7 separate regions of the Homo sapiens genome follow, and all the other regions are reported to be linked to region 1. Evidence: microRNA targets listed by miRTarBase, many of them from high-throughput screens and not tested one by one. Region 1 holds a microRNA gene; each other region holds the end of a gene's coding sequence.
Evidence for each region. Region 1 holds the annotated microRNA hsa-let-7b-5p (UGAGGUAGUAGGUUGUGUGGUU, at 1,384-1,405, opposite strand). A microRNA usually pairs through its seed, bases 2 to 8, with sites in the 3' UTR of a target mRNA and lowers its output. Matches are read on the target gene's strand: a 7mer-m8 pairs with bases 2 to 8, a 7mer-A1 pairs with bases 2 to 7 and ends in A, and an 8mer does both.

Region 1 (4,343 bases):
AGATCTGCTCCGGAGACAGAGGGGGCTGCTCTGAGACTCTGAGGCCTGGCAGTGGGAGTGGGGAGGGATGGAAATGGTGTTTAGAGGACAGAAGTGGCCAGATGTGGCTGCTGACTAATTATGGGGTGAAGAAGGGGATTTGGACAGTGCCCATGTGTCACCCACTCTGGCCCCAGAGGATGATGGGAGAAGGGACCATGGGGCACGTCACTCATCTCCAGCTGCAAACTCCTACGCAGCTGTCAAGACCCAGCTCAGATGGTCCCTGCTTTAGGAAGCCCTCCCTGCCCTTGGGCCCCTCCTCCACGTCCCTTTGCCCTTGGCCCACAGGGTGGCAGCAGCTCCGGGAGGGTAGGCAGGCCTGGGCTCTGAGGTGTTTGCCGTGCAGGACTGGCACAGATGGGTGTCAGGGTAGGGGTGCCGGTCTGCCCAGACGTGGCCATGCAGGGCTGGGGTTGCCTGCAGAACCAAGGCAGGCCAGGAGGGCACAGGGGGGAATCTGGGCCAAGATTGTGGCCTGGGTCAACAGGAGGGGCGAGGATGGGCACTTGGGTGGGGGAGGTGTGGGCCCAGCTGTATCAGCCCCTCCCCACCAGGGGCTCTCGGTGCTGGGCCAGGCATGAACAAGCCCACCCCACATGCCCAGGGCGGGATCACTGGGCCCAGCCTACGGCAGCTGCTAGACGAGGGCCTGAGGCCTCCCAGGAGAATGGGTGCACTTTTGGGATGGCAGTCTGTCAGAGGAATTACGGGTGCCCTGGAAACTGTCCTGAGGGAGGACGGAAGGACAGGCACGTCCAGACTTTGGTCAAGGCACTTAAGGCACGGAGGTGGCCTCAGGAGCCAGGACTTGGCAGTGCTCTGAGCTGCTGACCTGGGGCCTTGGTGGCTGCCCCGTGGGGACCTCTCCACCGGGCCTGGGTCCCGGTGTTCAGCCCGCCTGGCTCAAAGGCAGCACGAGAGGGCAGAGAACGGGCTGGGCCTGGGATCCTGAGCCCAGGGTACAGCACGGAGCCAACTGAGGACTCTGGAGGCACCGGGAGGCGTGAGCAGACAAGTCTCATGACCTGGAACAGCTCGTGGCCAGGGGCCTCCACACTGTCCCGCAGCAGACGCGCCCCAGAGCCCAGTCCCTGGGCTTCCAGAATGAAAGGGGCCAGTTCCAAGTTCATGGTCAGAACAGCTTTATTGAATCTAGCTCCCAGATGCCCACCCAGCTTCGGCTCAGGCCCCCTGCAGGTCACTGAGGTGGGGGGCAGCCCTCCCGTGGGGTCGTGTCACTGAGGTAGGGGGCGGCCCTCCCATGGGGTCGTGTCACTGGGCTCCTCAGGGAAGGCAGTAGGTTGTATAGTTATCTTCCGAGGGGCAACATCACTGCCCTGAAACCACACAACCTACTACCTCACCCCGCCAGGCCCGGCCTTGCACTGCGGGAGGGCCCGCCGCCCCCCGCCCAGCACCAGCCCCTGCCTGGCGGTCCTCAGTCACCAGAGCAGGAGGGCTGGGCAGGCGCAGGGCAGGAGGGACAGGGGAGATGGCACCCCAGGAAGGGGCAGCTGCTGCTGGCTGGTCTTGGGAAGTCCCTGGCTCTCTGGGCCTCAGTTTCCCCAGGTACAGAGGAGCCACTGTCTGCCTTCAGATTGTGCCATGTGGGACCCAGTGTATGCAGAGCTGTTCCTCTCACTTCCTGCTCAGGAAAGGTGCCTTGGCCTCCCTTCCTCCACAGGCAGAGGCCCTGCCACTGAGCTGGCCAGGCTGGGGCACGTGCTGGGAACCTGGGGTGATGGGCAACGCCAATACTCGCAGCCCTGTGACCTCCAAACGTCTCGGCCACCCCTGGCCCCACGGTGCCTTCTCCTGGTGCTCAGTGGAGGGTACGGCTCAGGGCCACCCATGAGCCTGGGCCTGATGGCGGGGGGAGTGTTGGGGAGTGTTGGGAGACAGAGGTCAGACAAACAGCTGCGTGGATCGCCTCTCTCAGTGCGGCTGGGGCAGAGGGTGGGGTCGGCTCAGCTCTCCTCTGCCCTCGATGCTCCACACTGCATCTCCTTCCATCCTCATTTGCCTCCATTTTACAGAGGAGGAAACTGAGACCCAGAGAGATCAGGGGCCTGTCCAAGGTCACACAGCAAGTGGCACCTAGGCCTGTCAGACTTCTCAGTGTAGGCGGCCCCTGCCCCCGACTGCTGCCAAGGCTGCCCCCAAACCTGGCCCTGCCCGCTCCCAGCCAGGGTTCCAGACGCTCTGTCCACCGCAGATATTACAGCCACTTCAGGAAAGACAGTAGATTGTATAGTTATCCCATAGCAGGGCAGAGCCCCAAACTATACAACCTACTACCTCACCCCAAAGGGCAGTCGGTCTTGGTGCCGATGGGACTCCGTGGCTTCCAGAGGCACCTCCTGGGGACGCGGGAGGAAAGAGGGCTGAGGAGAACAGGGGCTCGAGGCTCGGCAGGCCACACGCACCAAGGGCACAGGGATTCTGGCGGGCAGGCGCGGTGGGCGCAGGGGGCTGGGACGCCGAAACCCTGGGAGTGGGGACATTGTGGCCAGCACCAGCAGGGACGGGAGCCTGCAGGAAACCACCAACCAGAGAGGGACGAGGAAGAGAGAAAGGAGGAGGGAGGGAAAGCCCTGGCGGCATTTTGCGACGCTGTCACAGGCAGCCGGCTCCCTCTCATCTGGACAGGAGTGGCCATAATGTCCCCAAGGAACTCTGCACTGGAGACCCTAGGAGGAGGGCTGTCATCTGTCGAAGGCCAGCAAGACACAGGCATGCGAGTGCCCACCCTGCTCGGCCCCCTCCCTCCCCGCACAGCGCCACCAGAAGCAGCACTCGTGGCCCCCAGGCTGGCTGAGTAGCGGCTTCACGGGCGTGCCGTCTCCTCCCACTGGGCAGGCAGGCATCCCTCCCCAGGGGCCCTGGTTCTGGCCCTGCTGTGCAGGCTGGCCTGAGCTGACCGCACTGCAGGAGGTGGCGGGAAGGTTCTTTCCTTCCTTGAGGGAAGTGGCCTCTAGGGGAGAGCAGCTGGGGGGGTAGTCACAGACCCTCAGGTCCACCCAGGGTCCAGTGCCTGTCCCTGCGGGTGCTGGCACACTCAGTGCCCTAGCTTGGGACGCACAGGGCTGGGACAGAGTGTAGCATGAGGATGACACTGAGAGGGCCTCGGGGCTCCCCTAGCAGGGGAACGTGGCGAGAGACGGGCCTCCCTAAGCCCCGCCTATCCTGGGCCTGGTGCAGGGTCAGCCTCAACAAATGCTAATTGTGGCTACCACCTTCCTGGGGAAAAGCTGAGGGGGCAGATACGACTGTCAACCCCTCTTAAACAGGTGAGGAGACCGAGGCCCAGAGAGGCAACGTGACCTGGATGTCACACAGCCAAGGGGGCAGCAGAGTGAGGTCCAAATGTCCTGCTCCCTGCCAAGCTTTTTTTTTTTTTTTTTTTTTTTTTTTTGAGATGGAGTCTCACTCTGTCCCCCAGGCTGGAGTGCAGTGGCGCGATCTCGGCTCACTGCAAGCTCCGCCTCCTGGGTTCACGCCATTCTCCTGCCTCAGCCTCCCGAGTAGCTGGGACTACAGGCGCCCGCCACTACGCCCGGCTGATTTTTTGTATTTTTAGTAGACAGGGGGTTTCACCGTGTTAGCCAGGATGGTGTTGATCTCCTGACCTCGTGATCCGCCCGCCTCAGCCTCCCAAAGTGCTGGGATTACAGGCATGAGCCACTGCGCCCGGCCTGCTTCCTGCCAAGTTAAACGGCATGCTAGCTCTCAGCTCCCCATGCCCAAGTGGACTTGAAAGGTCTACCCCAGCCCTCCTTCCACAGCCCATCCTGAGCAGGCTGCCTACTCCAGGCAGGCCCCAGGCTGGGCTGGACCATTTAATCCTCACAGCCCTGGTAAGGCTGAGATCACGGATCCCACTTCATAGTGGAGAAACTGAGGCTCAGGGGGTGCTGAATCTCTAGCTCTAGGTGTCTTTGCTCTCAGAAGTTGGTCGGGGAGGGGGTCTGCTTGCTCTCTGGGCACGTGTCCTACTCCCTCCCGAGGGGCACTGGAGCAAATCCCAGGTCCTTAGCCAGCAAGGAGACCGCTGAGGCTCACACCTGGTGCCGCCCACCCAGAACTGGAGACTGAGATGCTGACTCACCCAGGAGTGGGGACCAGGAGGGCCCCGATGCAGCCCGACCCTCCTCTGTCCCAGCATCATCTCGCCTGGGGTCGCGAAGACCCCGTGTTCCCTCAAGGCCTCAGAACAAAAGCGGTATGAGAGGGTCTGGGGGTCCTGCTCCCCTGCTCCAATTCTGGGTCCCCTGGCTGGTGGGCAGGACCAAGATGTCCCT
Region 2 (4,343 bases), not on the chromosome of region 1:
TCAGTGTCAGCTAGATGCCCCATTTGGGGAGCAAGCTGCATCAGGCTGTGCACTACAAATGGTGTTTAAAGTTGCCTGTAATTTTTTAGACTTTGTGATTTTTTACTTATAAAATAATTTTTTTCTTTCTTACAGATCAAAGGTCCATCATCAAAACACCAAAGACTCAAGACACAGAAGATGATGAGGGAGCTCAGTGGAATTGTACCGCCTGTACTTTTTTGAACCATCCAGCCTTAATTCGCTGTGAACAGTGTGAGATGCCAAGGCATTTCTGAGCCAAATGGCCCTGTATCTTCTCTAAAACCACATCTAAAGTTCAAGAAACTAGTCTGTCATCGGGAAAAAGTTTCACTGCTACATAGGATTTTGTCAAATTGAAGGTGTGACAAGATGGTGTTCTGCTAATGTTAAATGTCAGCCCACAGAGCTAATAATACCTCAGTATAATGTCATGAGCAGTTGAAATTCATCACATGAAAAGTAATCTGCTGAAAGACTTGGTTGCCCACTGCCTAACTGTGTACAGTGTTACCAGTGTCCCATTATGGATAATTCTCAATATGTTAACACCTAGGTGTTCCCAATACCTTTTTCCCCTCATGTCACTACTGAATTTTGACAGGAGGAAGGAATAGAATGATAGCTTGTTTTATTTGTAAAGCTTTCAGTGAAACACTACATACACGAAGAAAAGGAACAAGGTTTAACTATTTAAGAACCATTTGCTGCCGCATAGTGCCATTGGATAGGGAAGAACTTCAGAAATCTGTGGTACTCTTGGCCTTGTCTTTGTCTTCCCTGAACGTGTCTCCACTCTGTGAAGCCAGCATCTAGGGGCTAAAGATGCAAAGGAAAGCAGCATGCATTGTCTGTACAAATGTGCAGCGAAATACCCCAAAGCTTTTCCTACTGTACAGATCTCTCGAGTCTGCTTTAAGTGATTTCTTTTCTTCTTGATTATTTTCTTATATTTCTATATGTATAGTGTAATAGCCTTTTGTTAACTAATTTTCTTTTTTCCTTTTAGTAATTAAGCACGATCATGTCCCTTTTTAAGCCTTACCTGAGAGGAACAATGCCTTAAAATAAAAAAGCATTAATGAGATGAAAGTATGCACAGAATAACTTTCCTCTACTTATTCTGTACTTTGCCCTCATGAGTTCCAATGTTGTGTGAAGACAGGCAGATGCTGCACAGTGAATTGCAGATGATATTACAGAAGTGATGTCTGTAGGTCACATTAAATACTGACTTGAGCAGTGGGTGACACAACACAGTGTTTGTCTTCCACAGGGAAGCTTAAAACAAAAGATATTTTTAACCCACTGACAGAACAACAAGGTTAAGCTTCATCTGCTTGGTGTCCCACAGAACTTGCACAAGCAGTTGTTATTGGGAAAGTACAGTCTCAAAACCAGCAACAGCAGCAGTACCTACAGCCCTTTTTTTGGAGAGAAGTTTAAATGCTTTACTGTTGGGGCAGTCCATTTCTAATCCTGACTTGGTGACAGTATCATGTGTATTTATAAAACAAGGCTAGCCATATTTAGGACAACTGAAGAAAAGCTGGAAAAAAAAACAAGCAAACTTGAACACTGAAGCAACCTCAAGCATCTCTTTATTTTGATGATATATTTTTGTAAGGAAAATATTCAGATGATCAGGAATGTATATAACTGAAATCAAGAAAAAGAACAGTATGCATTTAAAAAGACAGAATTATGAAATTATATGAGTGCTTAGAATGGGGCTAAGGGAAGTGCTGAAATAGAGCAAAGGATGGAAGATAATATAGACTACCACCCACTGTAAATGTTTGCAAGTGGCTGTGTTTTAAATGGGATTATTACAGTTGATCTCTATGAATGTCAGAGCCCTAACTTTCAGGCTTTGCATTTTGTATATGGGAAGAAATATGACAATCCTAGGTAATTAAACCATAGACCCAAAGCCCTTACGTTTGATGCAATTTATTTTTAAAATAGGCCTTGTTTTTCAGCTTCATCTGCAGTTCTATGTGAAGATTGATAAATCAGTTTTTACTTGTTTTATTAATAAAACGTAATTTGGATATCTTGAGTTGATGGTTTTGTGATTTAGCTGGGTAAACTATCTTTGTAACAGATAAGTTATTTATAAAAATTAAAAAACTTATATTCTAATGTGGATTTTGTGACTTGTTTTCAGTTTGTGGGACAGGAGATAATTTATACATCAGCAGATCATTTAAGCATTAATGGAAATCAGGGAAAACTTCTTCTCTAGAGTCTCCTTGTGACATTGTGATACTCAGCTGCATTTCTTGGACTGTTTTTATCAATTTCCCTAGACTTCTTTTTTCATAGTTTATGATAGTTTTCCCTTTTATTTCCTTTGGATTTTTCAAAATTTACCGCATTGTTAAAGACAAATGTGATTTATTGGACCATTTAACCTGAAGTAAACATTTAGTTAATATTTGTTCTGTCCCTTGATGTGTAATGCAGGTCATGAGGATGGTGGTGCTTCTCTTGAAGAGAACTTTTATATTTACAGTTTTCAAAAAATTACAAAAACTCAGGTGTTTTTCTCAGCCTGAAAAGAACAAAGTAGTATTTGCTGATCTCCCCATGATGCAGTTGTAGAAAGGTCTGCCTTGAGTGGTCTTTTAAACTTAGTAGAAAGGAAATACTCAATGCCAGTGAATATGAGGACTGGACATGTTGGGCATCTGGAGACCACTTTTGGGAACTTCATTGCCCTAAAACAGAATTACAAGTGTAAGAACCTCCAATCGAAAGATGGACTTCGAAGTATTTTTTTGACACAAATTATCCTTCATCTGTATGTTTAAAGGGGTTTGGGGGTAGAGGAATTGGCAGTTCATGTAAACTAGACTTCTCAGGAAAATTTTTATATTAACAAATTGTCAGCCAAATGTCTCCTGTGACAACTAATACGTTAGACAAAGATGTGTGTTATATTGCAGGCGTTTGAGGGAAAAAAGTTGAAATTTTATTTTTCTTTTAAAATCTTGTTTAACCTGTGTCATCTTTGATCTAATATTAATTAACTTTATATTGGGGAAATTATGCAGAAAATCAGCTCCATGGGTAGTCCAAAACTAATTGTTAGCTTTAAACCTACTTAATCAAAGCAGCTATAAATAGCAAAACTAGCTGACGTGTCACCAGTTTTCTCTATCCCAATGTAATGTTGACAGGCAATTCTAGTGAGCAGGGATAGATTTAAGAGGTAAACAGTATAAGATAAAATATTCAGACTGGGCACAGTGGCTCACACCTGTAATCCCAGCACTTTGGGAGGCCAAGGTGGGTGGATCACTTGAGGCCAGGAGTTTGAGACCAGCCTGGCCAACATGGGGAAACCCCATCTACTAAAAATACAAAAATTAGCCGGGCGTGGCAGCACATGCCTGTAGTCCCAGATCCTCTGGAGGCTGAGCCATGAGAATCACTTGAATTCAGGAGGTATAGGTTGCAGTGAGCCAAGATCGCACCACTGCACTCCAGCCTGGGCAACAGAGCACGACTCTGTCTCAAAAAAATAAAATAAAATAAAATAAAATATTCAGCCCATGAGTAATGGAAGTAGGCCATATTGCCGTAGAAAATAATGTAGTGACACTAGAGACTACTCCAGATTTAATATCTATATGCTGGATATCGGCATAGCTTCCCATATAACATCACAAAGTACTTCTATTCCTGTATGGCAAATGAATATATTTTTGGCTTCAGCTTTTTTGGTGCTACAATTTTATATCCATTTTACTTGAAATGGCTCAGCTGCATTTTAATTTGTATTGCTTCCATCTGAAAATACAATTAGACAACTGAGAGAAAAGGCCTAAGAAAACAATTTTGTAGTGAGTTTTTGTATTTGTTATGACCTCTCAACTTTATTATTTATTTATTTATTTATTTATTTTTTGTGGTGTGTGTGTGTGTGACACAGAGTCTCACTCTATCACCCAGGCTGTAGTCCAGTGGAGCAATCTCGGCTCACTGCAACCTCCGCCTCCCAGGTTCAAGTGATTCTCCTGCCTCAGCCTCCCCAGTAGCTGAGTTTACAGGCACACGCCATCACGCCTGGCTAATTTTTTTTGTATTTTTAGTAGAGACGGTTTCGCCACGTTGGCCAGGCTGGCATTGAACTCCCAACCTCAAGTGATCGGCTCACAGCCTCCCAAAATGCTGTGATTTCAGATGTCTTCATTAGATTTACTCTGTAATCCTGGGACAGTTCCTTGTTTATATTGCCTCTCCTTGTCGAACGAAGGTGATTAGATTAATGCTAAACTCACCTCACAGGGGTGTTGTAAGGATTAATGTGAAAC
Region 3 (4,000 bases), not on the chromosome of region 1:
ATACTGCCTACTTCAGAGGGCTTCTGCGAGGATTAAAGAAGATCACTTACAAAGTGATTAGAATAGCGTCAGGCACAAAGTAAATGCTCATTAAATGTTAATGATTACTATGAATAATATCAGCAGTGAGCTGACTCACGTATCTTAATGACTGTCATCTAGGAGCCAAAAATGGTATTTTAAAAAGTTCTGCAAAGTCCAAGTGAACAGGTTTGGAGTTAGTCCTTGTTCTGAATGTTGTGTGCCCTAGGTGTCTCTGTGTGCTCAGAATGTCAAAGAGGGCTAGCATCAGGGCAGTTGTCCATGAGATGAACCCCAGCTTGCTTCTCCTTCCTCCTTGAATGCATCTAACACCGAAAACCCTGTTTCAGGCGATCTGGGTGTCCATAGTGGGGAAGAACTCCAGCTCACCACCACTATCACCCATGTGGACGGACCCACTGAGATCTACAAGTTGACCCGCAAGGAGGCCCAGGAGTAGGAGGCTGCAGCGCCCGGCTGGGACGGTCTCTCCATACCCCAGCCCCTCTAACTAGAGTGGGGAGCATGCCAGAGAGAGCTCAATGTACAAATGAATGCCTCATGGCTCTTAGCTGTGGTTTCTTGGACCAGCGGCATGGACATTTGTCAGTTTGCCTTCTGACGGTAGCTTTTGGAGGAAGATTCCTGCAGCCACTAATGCATTGTGTATGATAACAAAAACTCTGGTATGACACATTTTCTGTGATCATTGTTAATTAGTGACATAGTAACATCTGTAGCAGCTGGTTAGTAAACCTCATGTGGGGGTGGGGTGGGGGTGTATTCCTTGGGGGATGGTTTGGGCCGAATGGGGAGTGGAATATTTGACATTTTTCCTGTTTTAAATTCTAGGATAGATTTTAACATCCTTTGCGGTCCCAGTCCAAGGTAGGCTGGTGTCATAGTCTTCTCACTCCTAATCCATGACCACTGTTTTTTTCCTATTTATATCACCAGGTAGCCCACTGAGTTAATATTTAAGTTGTCAATAGATAAGTGTCCCTGTTTTGTGGCATAATATAACTGAATTTCATGAGAAGATTTATTCCACCAGGGGTATTTCAGCTTTGAAACCAAATCTGTGTATCTAATACTAACCAATCTGTTGGATGTGGGTTTTAAAAAATGTTTGCTAAACTACCCAAGTAAGATTTACTGTATTAAATGGCCTTCGGGTCTGAAAAGCTTTTTTAACTTCTTGCTTAAAATGCGTTTTATTTTGATAAGATACTTCAAATAGCCTCCAAAAGTGTAGATCCAATCATTTAAATAAACCTGTATGTATATGCATATGTGTACATGCATATCCCCTCCTGCTAAAACTCATACACATGCGTGCAGATTATTTTCCAGGTTGAACCTAGAGGTGGGGAGTTGATGGGGGAAATAGGTTTCTGAAAAACTGATATACTTTATCATCAAATCAAAGTGTTTGGGGATAATACCTATTCCTGGAGAAAGAGTGACATTTTCTGTCCTGTGTGGTTAGCCTCCCTAGGCTGGCAAGGGATGCTCATATGCGTGACAACAAAGGTGGGGAGAACATCACGTGCTTTAGAAGCAGAGCCGTCCTCTGCCCTATTCAGACTTTCCCCAATAGCCTTTTTCGTTGTATTTTAACACTTGCACTGGAGATAGCCGAGAGAAGGAACACTGTTTCCTGTTGAAGGTCTGTGATTTACATCTGACCTGGCTATTTCCTCACTTATATCGATAAACTTTAACTGCTTACTGGGGTCACAGTGAAAATTTCAATCAGTTCATATATATGGAAGTGTTTTATGAACAGCAAGCCACATAAATGTGTTTTTCCTGGAGTCTAAAACCAGTTTCATGAGTAACTTGTTTTTCAGACACTGAGGTCTGGAGGTCTGGGGCACAGTCCATGTAATTCACCACTCAGCACCCCTAGCCTGCCTTTTCCTGACTTTGGCTTAAAGCGTGGTAAGCAGTGACAGTAGAAAATGCTTTGACTTTGGCTATTCTCTCTAGGCCTTTTCCTAACCTGGTGGACATTGGGATGGTGTACGATCCTGTGCACTCAATATCCACTTACCAATCAACCACTGCAGTGCCAGGAATCAAAGGGAGCCGTGCCTCCCAGTCCAGCAGGGAACTCCTGTCCCAGAAGATAGAGGGAACGTTTCTCTATCCCCTGGGTTAGGAAAAGGACTTTAGATAGACCTTAAAGGAGAAAGATTTTACCAGAGCCAACGGGCAAAGGGATCAGCAGTACAAAAATCATAGAAGAAAGATGCAAAGCATGGACAATGTTTGGATAAGGTCGGCGATCAGGCCTGGCTGGCACATAGGAATGGAAATAGCAGATGATGAGCCCTGTGCACCTGTGAGCCAGATGGAGAAGGGTTTTTAATGCTGTGGTAAGAGTTACAAGACTTAGCCTCAGATATTAGGCAGAAAAGTGATACGATCAGAATGATCACTGGAGCCTGGAGAGGCTGGACAAGCCCAGAAAAGAGATCACAGAGACTGGAACCAGGACAGTAGCAGAGGACTTGGAGGAGAGGATTATTTTGGAGATAAAATGCACAAGGTTTGAATGTTCTGGATGTGGGTTGCACAGAAAGATCGATCAGAGTCAAATTTCAAGCCCTCGCTGGGGAAGGGAATGGGTGGGGTTTCGGACAGAGAGAGAGATTCTTGGATGACAAATGTCAGTGGATTCACTACTTAAAGTTTTCTAAGTAGGAGCCAACTCTAGCAAGCTTAGCTAAGAGACAGACTGTACTAGAACTTTCCTAGCATATATGAGAGATCCATGGAAGAGTTGAATTAACCAGGAAGATGGGAAGTGGGGCAGCTCTAAGGGCCCCTAGCACCAGGAATCCATGCACCTTTCTCTCAGAGCAGTACCATTCACTACTGAGTCTTTATCCAGTTCTTGTTTCTCTCACTTAAAAACAGGAGTCTTAGGCAGGTGGCTGTCCCTGTGCCAGTCACCTGTGACCAGGAAGTCAGGTCAAATGGCTGCTTGGGGCCTACCTTATAGATCGGTGTCCATCTCCAAAGAATGGAGAATCCATTTTGAATTGGGCAAACAATCAGAAAAGATCTAGCACAGTGGGCAAGATGATGAGTTTGGGTTTGCCTGGGCTAGGTTTTAAAAGCCATCTCTTTGAGGAAATGAGCTAACAATTAGAACTGAGGGGTCCAGCAGATTGGGCAGCCACCACCATTGAGAGGAAGAAGGACAACTGGGCAGAGCAGTAAAACATCAAGCAGATGACCACCAAGAGTGGTGAGCCAGACATGGCCATATTCTATAGGAAAGGGGAAGAAGATAAGGTGGATAAATCAGAGAAATGTGGGGTTTCAAAGAAAGAACCAGATTCATAAGGAAAAAAGACGAAAGAAACAACGTTAGATGTCCTCAGAGGTTCAGCAGCATTTAAGGATCCAAGTCTCTTGGATTTGGTGGTTTGGATGTGTGTAACCTTCTTAAGTGGCAAGGGCAGAAGGTAGACAGAGAAGTGTAGCAGAGTCAGTGGGCAATTGTGGTGGGAAGGAAGGAGGTAAAATGGTTGCTCCGAGAAGAGCCAGAGTAAAATGGAGACTTGTGTTTTTTAGTCCGCAGGGAAGTGAACTAAGTTTGTAAACCTGAAGGGTGAGATCCAGCCATGAAGGAAAGATGTTGAGGAGCTAATGTAAGCCACAAGCCAAATCAGAGTTTTGGGACCAAGAGTACAAGTTGATGAGTTAGCATCGAAGGAGTGAAAAGACACTTTCATCCTGAGACAGGAGAGAAATAACAAATAGACAGTGGAGGAGAAACTTGAGGTCCAGAGGAGAGGGGTTGCAGTATGTCCCCTGGCTGTTCTGCCTTCTCCACCGATGTGTAGTGGGTGTTGGAGTTTCACTAAAGAAGTCTCCATTTCAAGAATGCAGGTTGGATGCAACCCATTTCAATCAGTGGAAAGAGAAGTGGAAACTCAAGAGGTGAGAAAATGCTTTTAGTAAG
Region 4 (4,343 bases), not on the chromosome of region 1:
TAACAAAGGTGGTGTGAACATGTCGTGATTAGATATCCTATGTAACCTTAAACTATAAAGGTAATACTTATGTAAGAACTAATTTAAATGTTTTGTATGAGTTAAATGTTTGAATAACATTATTTAACTTTATTCGGGGAGAGGATATGTTTACAGTTTTTACACTGAATATTCTGTAATTTACCATGCAATTGAATTACTAATGAAATGTTAAAAGAGCATATCATACCTCTGCCTCAGTTCTCTTCTAAGTAAGCTTTTTATGTAGTCACGCAATTAAGACTGTCAAGACATATTTGAATTTCATTTTGAATGGTGCCAGTGGCCCTGTGCTCCTGGTTGATACAGCATTTATACCCAGTTTGTCTTACTAGCTAATTTAAACTCTGAGCACATCCCTGTCACCTTCACAACTATAAATGAAATATCTTGCCATATATGTAGAAAGTAAAAGGTATGTGTTTCTTAACTTCTCCCTAAACTTCAGCTTGGCAGTAGTTTATAATTTGATGCTTTTGATGCTTTTTTTCTCTGGGTTTTAGTTTCTATATTTTTCCAAATGCCATTTTGAAAAGTTGCATTATAGATAGATATAAGTAAACAGGTGGGCACAGTGGTGCACACCTGTAGTCCCAGCTACTCAGGAGGCTGAGGCAGGAGGATCACTTGAGCCCAAAAGTGTGCGTACAGCCTGGGAAATATAGGGAGACCCTGTCTCTTAAAAAATAAATAAATAAATAAATGTATGTCTGTCTAATTTGGATTTTTAACTGTTATTTGACCTATTTTTTTAGGGACCATGCAGAGTGCCCTGTGTCGGCATGCACGTGTAAATGTATGCAGTTGGATACAACAGGGAATCTGGTACCTGCAGAGACTGTCCAGCCATAAAATGTTACCACCTTAAGAGAACCCTTCAAGTGTGGAGCTTTCTAGTAGGTGTCCTTCATAGCTCAGAAACATACCTCAGAACAAGCCATTCATGACTTACCTGTAATGGGAAAATAAATCATTCTATCAGATCAGCAGTTTTGATGTTTGAGTGATTTTGATATGCTTCACAGAGACAAATGCTGCCAAAATAAACATCGAAGTATAGACATGAGTTCTGTTCAGCAGGTTGAAAAGTCTGATTTAGAAAAACTTTCTAAGTTTTGGTTGAAATTATGAACACTCTAGAAGCAGAATTTCTGGAAGAGCCAAGAACAGACTTTGAGCCTATATCTTCAAAGCTGAAACTGGATATCTTTCAATAAAATATGTGCACTTTTAAAATAAAATGACTAATTCTGTGATTCAGACAATAGTTTTAAGTTCAGCTGTGCTTAGATTTCTTTCAGATTAATTTAAAATTACAGATTTTTACTTTTAGAATTGCAGAGCCCCTATCCCACACTGGAGAATATTTTTTATTACTGTCTGTTATATATGTGTCTATGTGTGTGTGTATATTTATGTGTGTATGTATAAATATGTATTTTTTAAAGGAGCCTTTTCCCTCCTTTGATTTTAAGATAAGCAATCTTTTGGCATAACATTATCGTCTTCCTAGAAAAGCCAAGATGAAGAATCTATCTTACAACTTTTTCTCTTCAGTAGAGAAAAACATGTACCATTTCAGGTGAACATACAAAATTTTCACTTTCTACCTTTTGCCTTCCAATGTCCTGATTTGTCTTCAAAGGTTTTTCTCCATATTAATTTGTCATCTTATCCTCATCACCTGAGAACATTTTACTGCATACAAAGTCTATGCAAGATTATATGTAACTAGCCATTTAGTATAATCTATGTCAGTGTTTCTGTGCTGTCAAATTCCGTCCTGATTTGGAATACCATACCTTGTTCTTTCCAAGGTAGACTAGGAAGTGTTGGGGAAATGGGGTCACTTCAGAGACCATTTTAGATGTAAGTTTTTAAATGTAAGTGTTACTGGGGCTAAGTCAGGTACTTTATTTAAAACATTTTTTTTTCTCATTTCATAGCTAGATAGTTGTAAGAGAAATACAAAGAATTTACAAGATGCTTCTCTGTCATCTGCCATATGCAGAGGGACTGAACTAGGAATTTTGTAGTTGAAGCTGTGTTCATAAAGAGTAAATCTTATTTTATAGATTTTGGAGAAATAAAACAAGAATTTTAAGAGCTTTCGTATTAGCAGTTTTGCCTTATAAAAACTAAGATTTGTCAGATTAGTTTGAGGTGTAACCTAAATATTAAAAGTAGATTAAATTTATTTTTTACCTTGAGTGTCTGATACATAAAACCCTTTTCTAGGAAAACATTGGAAGTAGTACATATTTACTCTAAATGTCTCACCTGCATGACAGTCTTTTCAAATGAAAGACATGGTAATTGCAATTTTTTTTTAAAGATTGCTATTAAGGGTACTTTTTCCAGCCTTCATTTGAGTAAATCTTAATTGATTTCATTTTATTAACATATACCCTTTACCTTTAATATTTCATTTGAAGTGTTCCTTTCAAACTTACTGTCTTAAATATGAAAGTCAGCTTTAAGTAATGTCAGACTCATATGCATTTTCATTCTCATTAGCTAAAGTAAAATGTAAAATTATCTCAAATAGTTACAAGTTTTGGAAATACAGTATAAAACATGAATGTAAAGTCTATTATGTAATATGCTTATTTGTAATCCTAATATATGAGGGTGACATTTTTAAGATTGTATGTATGTGTCAACCTCTTAAATGTTTTCTGTGAAGCCCAAACATGCAGTTTATGTCTCTGGTGTCTGTTTTGCATTTCAGTGTGCATGGACAATCAAATTATTTTCTCATTTTTATCACTAAGTCACTGGTATTTGGGTTTATAAACTCAACAAGATACTTTACCTAAACATGATCAATAGATGTGTTTATTAAAAGTGTTTTTATTATTTTTAAAAGATTGAATAAATCTGGGTTGAAGTCATTGTATCTAATCAAGAAATTATGATTCCTTTACAAATAATCCACGTGAAGTAATATTGGTGCTTTTTTTGATGACAGACTTCATACTTAATATTAGAAGTAACATTCCTTTTAGGCTCTGTTTTTCAATTCAACCCACTTTCCAGAATAGTTATTATCCTTTAAAATGGTATATTTTAAAAGTAGCTTCCCATTGTCAATGCTTCACATAGTAAGTATTTAAAAGAATGTAGTTCTTCATTTAATTAGATGACTCAATTTCAGTCATTCATTTGACTGCAAGTAGTTAAAGCATGGTCTTTGAAACATAAATTATAATCCTAGCCTCGGGATCTTCGGTAAGTGACTTGACCTTTTTGAGCTTCAGTTTCTTCATATGTTAAAAGAAAGATACAGAAATACCTACCTCAGAGTGTGGGAGTATTAGGTGATGCAATAAACATGAAGTGCCATATCCCTGTCACATGGTGCTCTATAAATGGTAGTGATTAGCAGTCATTGTTACCTTCATTTTCATAGATTGCTCATGTATCAGTACTTTTTCAATGAATACTTATAGTATAATTTTAATTATAGTTAAAATTATAAGTATAATGAATACTTATAATTTTAACGAATCTACATTTGTCTCAAGAATGAAAATTTCCTTGGTGTGAGTTAGCTGAAATAGATTTTCTTAAAAAGAGTGAAAATTCCCAATAATAGTTATACTCCAAATATAGGGTAAACAAAAGTAGCTAAGTCCTGTCTCAAAAGAAAAATGCCATAATTTGGATAAATTTATAGTATTACTGTTTTTGCTGCATGCAAAAATCCTCCAAATGACCTCCTAAGAGTTAAATGTGATATAAAAATGAACCCAGAGGAAAAAATTATGGCAAATTTAACAACTGACTATTGAAAACTTTAAGTTTTATGTCTAAACTCTTAATTTAACTACGTTTAAATTGAACTCCCTAATCTGGATACTTGGAGAAAGTATCCAGGATTATTCTGTGTACTTTTTCTTTTTCTGCCATTCTATTACACTTGATGTTCATTTAAATTATAATGTTGGGGTGGTAGTGATAATTTCAAAAGTATACTGTGAGACTTGCTGTCCCGGAATAGCCGTAATTAAAGCTAGTGGGCACAATTTCTGACATCTGCTCAGACAGGCATCAGAGAGGTAGGAGGCACATATTTGGGTCAATATCTTGTATCAAGTCTAGTGACCCACATCACAATGACAGAAACAGGCCTTGTTAGATAGCAGCTCCCCTGTCCACTACTCACTCCTTCCATTACATCATCTGCCAGTTTTCTCTCCTACCTGAAAATGTTGTAGGTTACTTTGTTGATTATAACAAGTAGCACTTTACAAATATATTAATTTTTATAAAATACTACTTTTCCCAGAGTACAGCGACAG
Region 5 (4,343 bases), not on the chromosome of region 1:
TGCATAGGGCTGTAGAAAGAGATTGTGCCATTGAGAAGGACATCGCAGTAGCCATCCTAGTTTTGAGTGTCATTTCTCCTTGGAGTAACTGTTGAAGAGAAAGACAGGACATTGCCTTAGGAGACAGCTGGCTCAGCTGTGTCCAAGAAGTGTCTATAGATGAACCTGAGTGACTGGTGCCTTCTGTGCAGGTGTTTGTGGCTCTTCTGCAAATGCTTCCTTATTCATCCTCATGTCATCGTCTTTCAGGCCTGGCCCTTCCCAGATGTGCTGGAGTGCTGCCTCGTCCTGCTTCTCATCAGGTCCCACTTTCCTGGCTGTCTGGCCCAGGAAATGCAGCAGCAGGCCCAAGAGCTCCTTCAGAAATACGGCAACACGAAAACTTACAGAAGACACTGCCAGACCTTCTGTATGTGAATTTTCACACACCTTGAAGAAACTGCCAAATTGAAAATGTTTGACATCTTTCACCTCTGCAGTTATGCCTCACCAGACATTCACTCTGGTCCCTAGATGTTTTTGCAGTAATCCAAAAGAATACAAACAAGGATTAAGTTTGAATCAACCCTGCCTACCCATAGACAACGGTGGATCTGACTTTAGACTCAATTGTGGTCTCCTACTGGAGGGAAGATCATGAAAAGCCCACAGTAGTTATTCAGAACTAACACCTGCAGAGTGTTGGTCATCTCTACAGCCTTAGGCAGGTTTCACCCAAAGAGGAGAAACTTCTGTCGTCACCCAAAGTGTTACATGCTTAAAACACAAGCTACCTTTGTAAATACTTCATCTGATCAGAAGTGTGTCATGCTTGTTTGAGATGGAGTTGCTGCATTTTAGGACTATTGATACCTTTTTTTAATTGTTTTTATAATATTTAATTTGAAAGAGGAGACCCTTCTCTCTCTACTCTTTCATAGACTGAAGTTTGAATATGAAATAGGCCTTAACCATCATGTTGACTCTCCTGTCAGAATTTTAGGTTGGAAATTTGGTTTTATTCTTTCATGTAATTGCTTATTTGAACAGATCACTTACTAAAGCTTTAGAAGAAGTGATTCAAATGTGTGTTTTCCCTTCAGTTTTATAACAAATGGATTGATGGCAGTCAAATAGCTCAGGAATAAATTACTGTTTCAATGGTTCTTAAACTTTCTTGGATCATAGGATCCTTTTGAGAATCAGATTAAAGCCAAAGATACTCTTTGGAGAAAAATGCATATTCCTAATTTTGCATAGATGACCTTTGGATTATTGGACTCTGACTATTGGGACCCTAAATACTATTTAATTATAAATCTTTTTTTTCTCCTCCTTGGTTATTTAAACAGTTGAACAGTGTCAGGAACAGATGTTTCTGTAATGTCACAGTTGCTAGCATGGGAAAATCAGAGTCTGGCATGGGTGTAGGAAGGAACACTCCTTTCAGATAATTGAACTGTTTTCTCTAGGATTCATTGTGAAGGCTTTTCTGCTCACGTTTGTAGTTTATTTTTCAATTAATTCCTAGGATTGGAGCTGTTGGGACAGTGAGAATGAAATTCATTTACAGGAAGTCCCAGGAAGGAGAAAGTTTGAGGCAGTTTTCAAAGACGTGTATGTGCCTAGCATTAGAGTTTAATAAACTCACAAAGGGAAATACTGTAGAATTTAGATCCTCACAGTTCTTCATACAGTGAAGTGAACTTTAGGAAGACGATGCTTTGTTACCAGGGATGGAGAATCTTTCTTGATTGCAAAGACATAAATAGGCATGGCTAGGTAGAAAACCTAGCCTAGTTGGTAGGACACCAGTTCTACCAACTGCTAAAATGAACTTTACTTACAGAGGTGGAAAAAATATATACTCCCTTCCACTTGAGTAAAGAGTGATATTGTTAAACTAGAATTCTAAATTCCTTTGTGATCTGTCAGAAGCATCACCTGTGGGTGGAGGAGTCCTGCACACTCCTCAGTTACTGCTTTGGTAAGAACAAGATTATCTATTTGAGTCCAGGCATGGTAGCTCATGCTTGTAATCCCAACACTTTGGGAAACCAAGGCAAGTGAATCACTTGAGGACAGGAGTTTGAGACCAGCTGGGCAGTATATATGGAGGCAGTATATATTTGAGACCAACATTTGGCAGTATATATGGAGGGGCTGAATTGCACTCAGTTGCCTGGTGCTATGGTGCACGCCTGTACTCTGGATACTGTGGAGGTTGAGGTGGGAGGATTGCTTGAGGCCAGGAGTTCAGGGCCAGCCTGTGCAACATAGCAAGCTCCCATCTCTATAAGTAATGAATAAACTTTTTAAAATGAATTATGGCCAGGCACAGTGGCTCACACCTGTAATCCTAGCACTTTGGGAGGCCAAGGCAGGCGGATCACCTGAGGTCAGGAGTTCGAAACCAGCCTGGCCAATATGGAGAAAACCCATCTCTACTAAAAATACAAAAATTAGCTGGGCATGGTGGCACATGTCTGTAATCCCAGTGTTGGAAATAAGAGCTCAGAGTCACAAAGAAAATGAGCACTCAAACAAAAGACTTCTCAGCAAGGCAAATTTACGTCCGCAGAAGGGTGCTGCTGCCTGCACCAGTCACAATCACAAGAGCACACTGAACAAAGGAGAGAAAGGTTTTTATCCCTAATGCAGCTTCTGTTTCTGTATCCTTTTCCCATTGGCTGGAGTCGGACCACACAATTTAAGCTAACCTGATTGGCTAAAACTTGAAATTTTTCCAAATAGGGTAGACAGGGAAGAAGGGGTAGGAGTGGTAAAACTTTTCCAAATAGGGTAAACTGAAACCTTTAAACACGTAACTTGTAAAGAAAGGTTGGGAGGGAGGGATTGTCCATTAAGGCATATTTGGGCATGTTTAGGCACAGCAAAGATGGAAAGTCTTGTTTAGAGAACAAGAATTTATCCTTTCTAGCAATGTGAAAGGACATTAGTTGCTAAAAGGAACAAGGAAGTTTGAAGAGGAACTGATGGTTTGGCAAATTTCCCCCTCTTGACTTGGTAGTTCTTCCTCGTCAAGTCTCCTTAACATATCTTGACTTTATTGTTCCTCTTAGTCACTCAGGAATAGGAGCTTATCTGAGTAGGGTGGGGGAGAAGCAAGAGGGGTTTTGGTGAGAGCTTTTTCTATGAGTCTTTGCACTAATCCATGAATACAGGGTATAATGCAGCAACCTACAAGAATAAGTACACCTATAACAATTGCAAGGGGGGTAAAGATTGAGGTTATGAGTCCCTTCCATTTGCCAAACCATTTTTCCATGAGATTAGAGAAGGGGTCATTTACTCCAGAATTTTTGGCCAATTCATTTGCTAGGGCTTTTGTAATTGTTCCATCCGGGGCTGTGTTGTTGGGGATAAAAGTACACCATTAGACTCCAATCATGATATGGACCCCACCCTTCTCAGCTAATACCATGTCCAGGGCTATTCAATTTCCCAGGCCATTAGGCTGGTAGGGCCTAATTGTTCAGCTATTCCTTTAATGGAATCCCTAGTATAATTAGCAAACCATTGTTGATTATAGTTAATGTAATTTATCCAGTCTACATTTTTGTTTGCAGTTACCCATGAGAGCAATATAGATTCAAATCCTGCAGGTATTTGATTTTGGGTTTTAAACTCATTTGGCACCCCTCATGGAACTCCAATGGCATCTATATAAATGTGAGGGTCAAAGGACATGTAAGGGGGACTTCTCTTAACAATTGTTCTTTTTGTTTGGTTGGTGAAATGCCAGGGTGAAAGGGATGGCCAATTGGATTAGAGTGCAAGTGTCCCTCCAGTTACTTGGCAGAGTACCCAATAGTGGCCCACCACAATACCACCATAAATCCAGATGCTCAGGGATGAACAAGGGCAGACTTATTGGTTAGCTCCTGAAAAGGCTTGGACTCACTACATCCCATTAGGCTTCCAAGGAATGCCAAATTTTCCCCCTGTCGTGAGACACGTAAAATTTACATTGTTAATCGGAGGCCCTCGGGCTGACCTACAGGGCCTTTAACTTCCAGAAATAGCAGCGAGAGTTTAGCATGCCTTATTCCCCCGGGCTGTGGGGTTTTGGAAGAGAGCTACCATACAGCTCAAGCCCTGTTGGTTGGAGGTCCATCCGAGTGGAAAGGGAACAATTTGGGTTTCTGGCTTACCTGTTGCACAAGGGTAACAATCGCTTTTATTTAGGGTGTGAATGGAATATTTAATCCATTCCAGCCAGGCATTAACATCTTGATATCTGGTTTCTATGGCTAAGGTTTGCTTTAGGTCCATGACTTCTACTATGGCTATTTTTTTATTATTAGGTAAGAAACGAAAAATGGTTTGATTTGGTGGGCGTG
Region 6 (4,343 bases), not on the chromosome of region 1:
TGAGTCAGGCAATATTCTTTTGCCATTCCCAACTCATATTCCTGGGGAATTGTGCTCTAGGTACATGGGAAAAATTTTTACAGTGAACTGAAAGAATATTTGAGATGCTATTTTAGCCACTCTTGTGTAACAAGGCAAGTTCGTTGGCTATGTTGGTTTAGATTTTTGTCAAACTTCGTTGAGGAAACCTAGGAACAGGGACTGCAGGAGAATAGGACACTAGCTGGATCATCTCAAGAGAACCTTTAGATCTTCCATACTAGCTGGATCATCTCAAGAGAACCTTTAGATCTTCCATTCTGTGGAGGCTGGGAGAGGGGTCTTGTTGTCTTTGGGACTGTTTTGGCTCAAGCTTTTCAGAGAGGGGTTGTTCTAGGTACCCCCAGTTTCCTGTCCTCTTTCCATCCTTCCTTGGCCTGCATGTCCCAAACCTTATACCACCATGCCCTTAGTGTTTTCTGTCTTGCTCCAGGACCCCATCTTCTTAGTCATTGAACACGAGGTTTCCTGTCTCAGATCCTCTTCACCTCCGGTTCTCCAAGGTGTAAATGTGGCACTTGATTAGGGAGAAGAGCTCAGCACTGAATTCTAAACTCTTTGACCGCTTTTATTTTTTTTTTCAGGTTCAAGTGCTGGATTGTGTCATGTGACCATCCCAAAACTCAGAGCACCCTATGGCCGTCTTTGCCCTCTGTCACATAACTTGAAAACTGCCTGATGGCCTTTTTGCAGTGGTTCCCTCCAGGAAGCCTTGATCTCAGTTGAAGAAGTTCTTTCCTGGCATTCCAATGCCCCTGTCAGCTCCATACTCCTCAGACACCCTTAACAAAGGCTGTCATGCACACAATGTGACAAATACACAAAATAAATGATAATTACACTAATAATGATATGTTCAGAGGGGCACTGGCCAGGTCCACACACATCATAAGGTGGGAGGGGGTGCTAACTCCCACTGGGTTGCTGAGCTGTGCCCCCCAAGTCCCTTCACTCTGTGCCTCTTTGGGGGTAGGGAGGAACAGGGGAATGAGACTTCAGCTCACAGATTTATGTTCATAAGAGAAAGACCCCTGCCCCCCCCCCACCCACCACACACACACAAAGGTCTTTATTTGGTGGTATTTAAGGAGCTGTATTCTAAGTGTCCCCCATATTTAATGCCCCAGCTCTCTAGAATCTGTAGAGGGAAGATACCTGATGCTTATTGCCCAATCCCTACTCTGCCAAGATCACGAGGCATTTGACCTTGGAGGGAGGTATCTGTTCTTCACTTCTCTGTTCCTTTCCTTCCACCAAGGAAATGTGAGTGGTGTTGATGGCCGGGTGTGTCTTGTCCTTCAGGATTGGGGCAGAAGGAAGGATGAAGAACAGGGCCAGAGAGGCTTGGGGTTAGCATAGCTGCTATATGGGTGAAGGCAAGCTGAAGAGCCTAACAGCCCTGCCCATTCCTCTACTGAAAGATCTTGTTTCACTTTCTCACTATAAGAATAGGAATAAGATGTTAAAGCTCACCAACATCACCTTCTCAAGGGTGGTCACATACCTTTGCCCCTTCCACCAACTGGCCAAGGGGGAGAGTCATGCTCTTGGGAAGAATGAGCCATCCAGTTTTGCTCACCAGCTTGGGCTTTACTTTAGTTCAGTACTGTTTTTATCAGACCCGTAACTGCTGGCTCTACTTAGAGTGACAGTTTTGCTGAAGATTCTTACCCCCACCTCTCCTGACATCCTCTAAGCTCTTGCCTGGAGCCAAGAGGCCTGGTGGTGAAGTAAGGATAGGGTGTGGATCAGGAGATTCTCAACTCCTTGGCTTCTAGGCACTGTCCAGCTGGGAGGCAGAGGGGAACTTGTACTCTGAAGCCTGTGACTCCTCTTAAGCCTCACATCTCTTCACCACTACTCTGGTGCCCTGGTTATCTGTCCCACAGCGAGAGGTATTTTATGTCCATAAAGTGCCCGTGGTAAGTGCTCAGAATTCATCTCTTGGCTGTGGCGGGTGCTGTCATTTCTCATTCCATTGAGGGGAAGAAACTGAGGCACAGTGAGTCCAGAGGAGAATGGGTCAGGGTTGTGGGAGGAATGAATGGGCCTAGCTAGTGACTTGAAATGGCAACCAGTCTCTGCCTGCTTCCTAGCCTTCCAAGCCCGGGAGTCTCCATCCTTCCCATCCTCTGTTCTAACTGGCCTTGTCAGATGCTTTTCCCCACTGTACTTTCCCCTCCCTGCTGCCAGGTACTGTTAGATTCCAAAAATAAAAGGAAAAAATAATTATACACTCTGCTTCCTTGTTCTCCCCTCTTCCACCCTGAGCTTTGGGGTTAGGAGACTAAAATGTCCCCCTTCCAGAATCCTTCCCACCTTGGTCTGCTGGCTCTATTCCCTAGCCCAGAGCAGTGATTTGGATTCAAATGCCCTGTAACCTTCAGCCTCCTTACTGCTCCTTTCTTGACCTCTCCTAACGCTTTCCAGACCCAGGGGACTCTGGGGTCTCTATACTCTCTCTAATTGACCTGAAGATAGAGGCTGGGAGCAGGGCCATTCCAGAGGCTCTTTGGTCTCTCTCTTGGCTGAGGGAATTTGGGCATAAGCAGGCTGCACCCTCTGGCTAAATAACTCAGCATCATGAGGGTGGACCTGAGGGTTTAAAGTAGCTCTCATTATATAGATCCTGGATGTTGAGGGTTCTCTCTCCCACCCCCGCATCCCCAGCTCTTAAACCCTAACCTCTTACTATTTCCATGACAACTGGCTTCAATTCAAGCCATTTGGCTCAGAAAAGGTTGAGTTAGGGTGATGATGGGTTAGAAACTAAACTTCATGTGTCCGCCCTCTTGCCCTTTACTCCCATTCCCAACCCTGGAGGCTTTATACAAGTGCTTAAGTGAGTAGGTGTTGGGGAGAGCAGGGTTTGGGGAATAAGGGATAAACGGGGCACAGTGGGCAGGGGCCCTCCTATTCCAGTAAAGCCAAATACCAAAAAAATGAAAAGTCACAATAAATAAATAAATAAAAATTCCCAAATCTTTTTGCCCCTGCCCTCACTTCCCCTTCCCCTGGCCACTGTTGGAGGGAGAGAAGGAGAAAAGAATGGATTTTTGATTTCTTCTCCTACTGAATAGTCAGGGGATCTCCCCAAACTATACCAAGCCCCTCACCTTGCCAGTGGAAGAAAGGAGGCTTGGTGTGGGGCTTTCATTTATTACTCCATTTCAGTCTCTTTCTCAGTGTTTTGTCTCTGCCTCGTCTGTCTCTTCTGCCTCTCTCTTTGCCTTCTCACTGCTGCTCTTTTTGTTCCTCTGTCTCTATCACTGTCTCTACATCTCTCTGTCTTTTTGTCAAACCTTCTCATCTGCAAACTTCAAACACTCCCCACCCTGACTATGCCCCTGCTTCCCCTTTCCCCCAAACCCCTCACCCTCAATTCCCACCTGCCTCCCTCTGTTGTATTGCACACGGCTTGGTCGGGGAACGGTGTGATGTTCGCGGGAAGAGTGGAGGGAGCTCTAGGGCTTGGGGGGATGGGGGCAGGGCTAGGGGTCTTGGGGTAGGGTCTGTGGGGGAGGCATCCTCTATCCCCCACCTTAAGAGCAGCCACAGCGATCCACCACCATGCCAGGGATCTTGCCGTAGATAATCTGCTGCTTGTCATTGAAGTAGAGCATGTTGATTGGGGACATCTTGGTGGGGGTACAACAGGGCCCAGCAGAGCCTCTTGGATTGGCCTGCTGCACCAAATGGGTATGCGGATATTTTTGCATGAACATGTACTCGCACTGGCCGGAGCAGTAGTTGGCCTTGTAGCGCTTAGGTGCGATGATCCAGTCCCAGCCGAAAGCCTCAAAGTCCACTGTGAGGGGATATCGGCAGCAGCGGGACTCGCTTGAGTGCTCGTCGCAGTCCAGACCCAGGTTCCGCCGGGAACGTTTTGTGTTCTCTAGGACTCGAAGCTCCATGAATGGATGCTGAGGGTCAGGGAGAGGGGAAAGAAATGTGATATGGTCCTGAACAGTTCCTCTTCCCTGTTCCTTTCCCACCTGCCAGGGGCATCAGAATAGAGACTGCTGACTTCTCAGCTTTTCCATTGCTCCCACCCCCAGAATTTATCTTTTGCCCACTTTTCTTGCCAGCTAGCTAGCTCTCCTTCAACTCACCATCTCTAATTCTTACTCTTCTGGCAACCTGATCCCTGTCAGCCCCTTGGCCCAACGCCTCAACAGCCAGTTTTTTTGTTCTCACAGCTCTTCCATTAACTGACACCTTTACCTTCAAATCCAGTTTTCAGCTGTTGTCTGATTTGGATCCTTGAGAAGTAATAGTTGCCACCCCACTCCTCACCTCCTCCT
Region 7 (4,343 bases), not on the chromosome of region 1:
GTCCTTATTGGCCATTTTGTGCCAGGCACTGTTGTAAGAGATGGTACTTTATTACTGTGGTTTTGCAGTTGAAGACATTGAGACACAGAAGATTTCATAATATGCCCAAGGTCACCCAAAAAGTAGCACAGCCATGGTTGAAGCTCAGGCAGTCTGCCTCCAGAACCTGTTGTACTTAACACTTCTTTGGACTTGTTGGATTAAGAACATCTTGTAGCATTTCCATTTAACATCATTTTCTTCATCCTTAAAATGGGAACCATAATGTCTGATCTGCTTGTTTCATAGGAGTCCAAATGGAGTCAGCTTAATTCAGTAAACAGCCCCTGCATGACCATGTCATGAATAGGCCATAGTTCTTGTTCTCAAATTGTTCATTGTCCGTGGAGGAGCCCGACAAGTAAACAACTAAAATTCAGCATAAGCTTGTAAATGCCAATGCTATATAGTCTTGAGGAACAGATAAATTCCAACAGTTGTTTAATATTTCCATGACGCCTATTTTCTCTTGCATCTCAAAGGAAACAGCTGAAAAGACCAAGAGAGTGAGCACCAAAGAGATCTAATGAGGAGGCACAGACCAGTGTCTGGATCCCAGCATCTTCTCCACTTCAGCGCTGAGTTCAGTATACACAAGTGTCTGCTACAGTCGCCAAATCACCAGTATTTGCTTATATAGCAATGAGTTTTATTTTGTTTATTTGTTTTGCAATAAAGGATATGAAGGTGGCTGGCTAGGAAGGGAAGGGCCACAGCCTTCATTTCTAGGAGTGCTTTAAGAGAAACTGTAAATGGTGCTCTGGGGCTGGAGGCTAGTAAGGAAACTGCATCACGATTGAAAGAGGAACAGACCCAAATCTGAACCTCTTTTGAGTTTACTGCATCTGTCAGCAGGCTGCAGGGAGTGCACACGATGCCAGAGAGAACTTAGCAGGGTGTCCCCGGAGGAGAGGTTTGGGAAGCTCCACGGAGAGGAACGCTCTCTGCTTCCAGCCTCTTTCCATTGCCGTCAGCATGACAGACCTCCAGCATCCACGCATCTCTTGGTCCCAATAACTGCCTCTAGATACATAGCCATACTGCTAGTTAACCCAGTGTCCCTCAGACTTGGATGGAGTTTCTGGGAGGGTACACCCAAATGATGCAGATACTTGTATACTTTGAGCCCCTTAGCGACCTAACCAAATTTTAAAAATACTTTTTACCAAAGGTGCTATTTCTCTGTAAAACACTTTTTTTTGGCAAGTTGACTTTATTCTTCAATTATTATCATTATATTATTGTTTTTTAATATTTTATTTTCTTGACTAGGTATTAAGCTTTTGTAATTATTTTTCAGTAGTCCCACCACTTCATAGGTGGAAGGAGTTTGGGGTTCTTCCTGGTGCAGGGGCTGAAATAACCCAGATGCCCCCACCCTGCCACATACTAGATGCAGCCCATAGTTGGCCCCCCTAGCTTCCAGCAGTCCACTATCTGCCAGAGGAGCAAGGGTGCCTTAGACCGAAGCCAGGGGAAGAAGCATCTTCATAAAAAACTTTCAAGATCCAAACATTAATTTGTTTTTATTTATTCTGAGAAGTTGAGGCAAATCAGTATTCCCAAGGATGGCGACAAGGGCAGCCAAGCAGGGCTTAGGATATCCCAGCCTACCAATATGCTCATTCGACTAACTAGGAGGGTGAGTTGGCCCTGTCTCTTCTTTTTTCTGGACCTCAGTTTCCTCAGTGAGCTGGTAAGAATGCACTAACCTTTTGATTTGATAAGTTATAAATTCTGTGGTTCTGATCATTGGTCCAGAGGGGAGATAGGTTCCTGTGATTTTTCCTTCTTCTCTATAGAATAAATGAAATCTTGTTACTAGAACAAGAAATGTCAGATGGCCAAAAACAAGATGACCAGATTTGATCTCAGCCTGATGACCCTACAGGTCGTGCTATGATATGGAGTCCTCATGGGTAAAGCAGGAAGAGAGTGGGAAAGAGAACCACCCCACTCTGTCTTCATATTTGCATTTCATGTTTAACCTCCGGCTGGAAATAGAAAGCATTCCCTTAGAGATGAGGATAAAAGAAAGTTTCAGATTCAACAGGGGGAAGAAAATGGAGATTTAATCCTAAAACTGTGACTTGGGGAGGTCAGTCATTTACAGTTAGTCCTGTGTCTTTCGACTTCTGTGATTATTAACCCCACTCACTACCCTGTTTCAGATGCATTTGGAATACCAAAGATTAAATCCTTGACATAAGATCTCATTTGCAGAAAGCAGATTAAAGACCATCAGAAGGAAATTATTTAGGTTGTAATGCACAGGCAACTGTGAGAAACTGTTGTGCCAAAAATAGAATTCCTTCTAGTTTTTCTTGTTCTCATTTGAAAGGAGAAAATTCCACTTTGTTTAGCATTTCAAGCTTTTATGTATCCATCCCATCTAAAAACTCTTCAAACTCCACTTGTTCAGTCTGAAATGCAGCTCCCTGTCCAAGTGCCTTGGAGAACTCACAGCAGCACGCCTTAATCAAAGGTTTTACCAGCCCTTGGACACTATGGGAGGAGGGCAAGAGTACACCAATTTGTTAAAAGCAAGAAACCACAGTGTCTCTTCACTAGTCATTTAGAACATGGTTATCATCCAAGACTACTCTACCCTGCAACATTGAACTCCCAAGAGCAAATCCACATTCCTCTTGAGTTCTGCAGCTTCTGTGTAAATAGGGCAGCTGTCGTCTATGCCGTAGAATCACATGATCTGAGGACCATTCATGGAAGCTGCTAAATAGCCTAGTCTGGGGAGTCTTCCATAAAGTTTTGCATGGAGCAAACAAACAGGATTAAACTAGGTTTGGTTCCTTCAGCCCTCTAAAAGCATAGGGCTTAGCCTGCAGGCTTCCTTGGGCTTTCTCTGTGTGTGTAGTTTTGTAAACACTATAGCATCTGTTAAGATCCAGTGTCCATGGAAACATTCCCACATGCCGTGACTCTGGACTATATCAGTTTTTGGAAAGCAGGGTTCCTCTGCCTGCTAACAAGCCCACGTGGACCAGTCTGAATGTCTTTCCTTTACACCTATGTTTTTAAGTAGTCAAACTTCAAGAAACAATCTAAACAAGTTTCTGTTGCATATGTGTTTGTGAACTTGTATTTGTATTTAGTAGGCTTCTATATTGCATTTAACTTGTTTTTGTAACTCCTGATTCTTCCTTTTCGGATACTATTGATGAATAAAGAAATTAAAGTGATGGTTTTATTGGTTTCCTTTCCCCCAATTAAGGCCAAATAAAGTCGTGAGAACATTACCCATTTACTTCCTAAGAGTGGATTTGAGTTTCAGGAGCCTTAAAAAGGACTGAAGAGTTTCTCCTGGGACTACAGCTTGGATGGAAAGTTTACTCGGGGACTGGTAGAACAAGTTTCTTTGAAAGGATCATGGATAGTGGGTCTGGAGTAGAAGGTGATGACAAGTCAGAAAGTGTCTTAGTCCCTTCAAGTTGCTATAACAAAATGCCTCAGACTGGGTAATTATAGGCAACAGAAATGTATTGCTCACAGTTCTGAAGGCTGGGAAGCCTAAGATCAAGGTACCAGCAGATTCAGTGTCTGATGACGGCTTGTTGAAGCTTGCCTGCTTCAAAGAATGCACCTTTTTGATGCATCCCCACATGGTGAAAAGGGTGAACAAACTCCCTTAGGCCTCTTTTATAAGGGCACTTACCCATTCATGAGGGTTAAACTTTGATGACCTAATCATCTCCCAAGAGCCTCACCTCTCAATACCATTGCTTTGGGGATTCAATTTTAACATATGAATTTTGGGGGACATAAACATTCAAACCATAGCAGGTGCATTCCTGTATTGGGAAGACATTAAATTAAATGACTCGTAAATCCCCCATATGATTTAGGAGACTAAATGGCATCCAGTGAGGCTGACTGCAGTAGCCTGTGAGAAGGCAAATAAACATGGGAAGGTAGTACAGGGAACATGGAATCATTGCCAGGGACAGGCTAAATAACCTTAATGGCACTTCCTTGATACACACATTCCATGGGGGTAAACAGTTCCAAGTGGGCTGAACGTTAGCTGGTTAAAACCTCTTTTGCTTGGGGACACATGACTAACGCTTTCCAACCTGCCATTTTCATATGTATCATGCACTCTCCACCCACAATAATTCTGCCTCCCAAAAGAGCATATTATAGTCAATGAGGTTTAAGGTTTCTTCGGTTCAGTCATGTGGAAGTTTTGCTTTCCTAAAATTATAGCTGGATCACTTTGATTGGATTTGGGATATTACCCAAATGCTAATCAAATATTAAAAGGCAATCTTTTTTGTTATGTGATT

Region 2: the mRNA of TAB2 is a reported target of hsa-let-7b-5p. Seed matches in the 3' UTR shown: 7mer-A1 at 438-444.
Region 3: miRTarBase lists WLS as a target of hsa-let-7b-5p. The part of its 3' UTR that is shown has no 7-base or 8-base seed match.
Region 4: the mRNA of MIOS is a reported target of hsa-let-7b-5p. Seed matches in the 3' UTR shown: 7mer-A1 at 963-969.
Region 5: the mRNA of GEMIN5 is a reported target of hsa-let-7b-5p. The part of its 3' UTR that is shown has no 7-base or 8-base seed match.
Region 6: the mRNA of GDF11 is a reported target of hsa-let-7b-5p. The part of its 3' UTR that is shown has no 7-base or 8-base seed match.
Region 7: the mRNA of FSTL1 is a reported target of hsa-let-7b-5p. The part of its 3' UTR that is shown has no 7-base or 8-base seed match.

The regions. Positions count from the first base shown.
Region 1 is chr22:46,110,753-46,115,095 of GRCh38, reverse strand. MIRLET7B (microRNA let-7b) reads right to left here and starts at 1,410; the gene lies at 1,328-1,410. It overlaps LOC124905135 (collagen alpha-1(III) chain-like), which reads right to left. Exons shown (of 2, transcript XM_047441696.1): 2 at 1,168-4,343. MIRLET7BHG (MIRLET7B host gene) reads right to left here. Exons shown (of 5, transcript NR_110479.1): 5 at 1,168-4,343. It overlaps MIRLET7A3 (microRNA let-7a-3), which reads right to left and starts at 2,347; the gene lies at 2,274-2,347. It also overlaps MIR4763. RefSeq lists an enhancer at 3,786-4,319.
Region 2 is chr6:149,409,442-149,413,784 of GRCh38, forward strand. TAB2 (TGF-beta activated kinase 1 (MAP3K7) binding protein 2) reads left to right here. Exons shown (of 7, transcript NM_001292034.3): 7 at 136-2,166. The coding sequence ends at 278. Among named protein-coding and RNA genes, the nearest start is that of SUMO4, 11 kb to the left of the region's middle.
Region 3 is chr1:68,122,707-68,126,706 of GRCh38, reverse strand. It overlaps WLS (Wnt ligand secretion mediator), which reads left to right. Exons shown (of 12, transcript NM_024911.7): 12 at 372-1,347. The coding sequence ends at 481. The region is part of intron 8 of GNG12-AS1 (GNG12, DIRAS3 and WLS antisense RNA 1); the gene reads right to left. Among named protein-coding and RNA genes, the nearest start is that of MIR1262, 59 kb to the left of the region's middle.
Region 4 is chr7:7,606,202-7,610,544 of GRCh38, forward strand. MIOS (meiosis regulator for oocyte development) reads left to right here. Exons shown (of 13, transcript NM_019005.4): 13 at 795-2,731. The coding sequence ends at 891. Among named protein-coding and RNA genes, the nearest start is that of UMAD1, 32 kb to the right of the region's middle.
Region 5 is chr5:154,884,284-154,888,626 of GRCh38, reverse strand. It overlaps GEMIN5 (gem nuclear organelle associated protein 5), which reads left to right. Exons shown (of 28, transcript NM_015465.5): 28 at 250-1,216. The coding sequence ends at 417. Among named protein-coding and RNA genes, the nearest start is that of CNOT8, 28 kb to the right of the region's middle.
Region 6 is chr12:55,749,121-55,753,463 of GRCh38, reverse strand. GDF11 (growth differentiation factor 11) reads right to left here. Exons shown (of 3, transcript NM_005811.5): 3 at 1-3,962. The coding sequence ends at 3,582. It also overlaps a transcript of SARNP not described here. Among named protein-coding and RNA genes, the nearest start is that of GDF11, 8.2 kb to the right of the region's middle.
Region 7 is chr3:120,393,175-120,397,517 of GRCh38, reverse strand. It overlaps FSTL1 (follistatin like 1), which reads left to right. Exons shown (of 11, transcript NM_007085.5): 11 at 522-4,343. The coding sequence ends at 566. It overlaps MIR198 (microRNA 198), which reads left to right and starts at 1,789; the gene lies at 1,789-1,850. It also overlaps the pseudogene BTNL12P.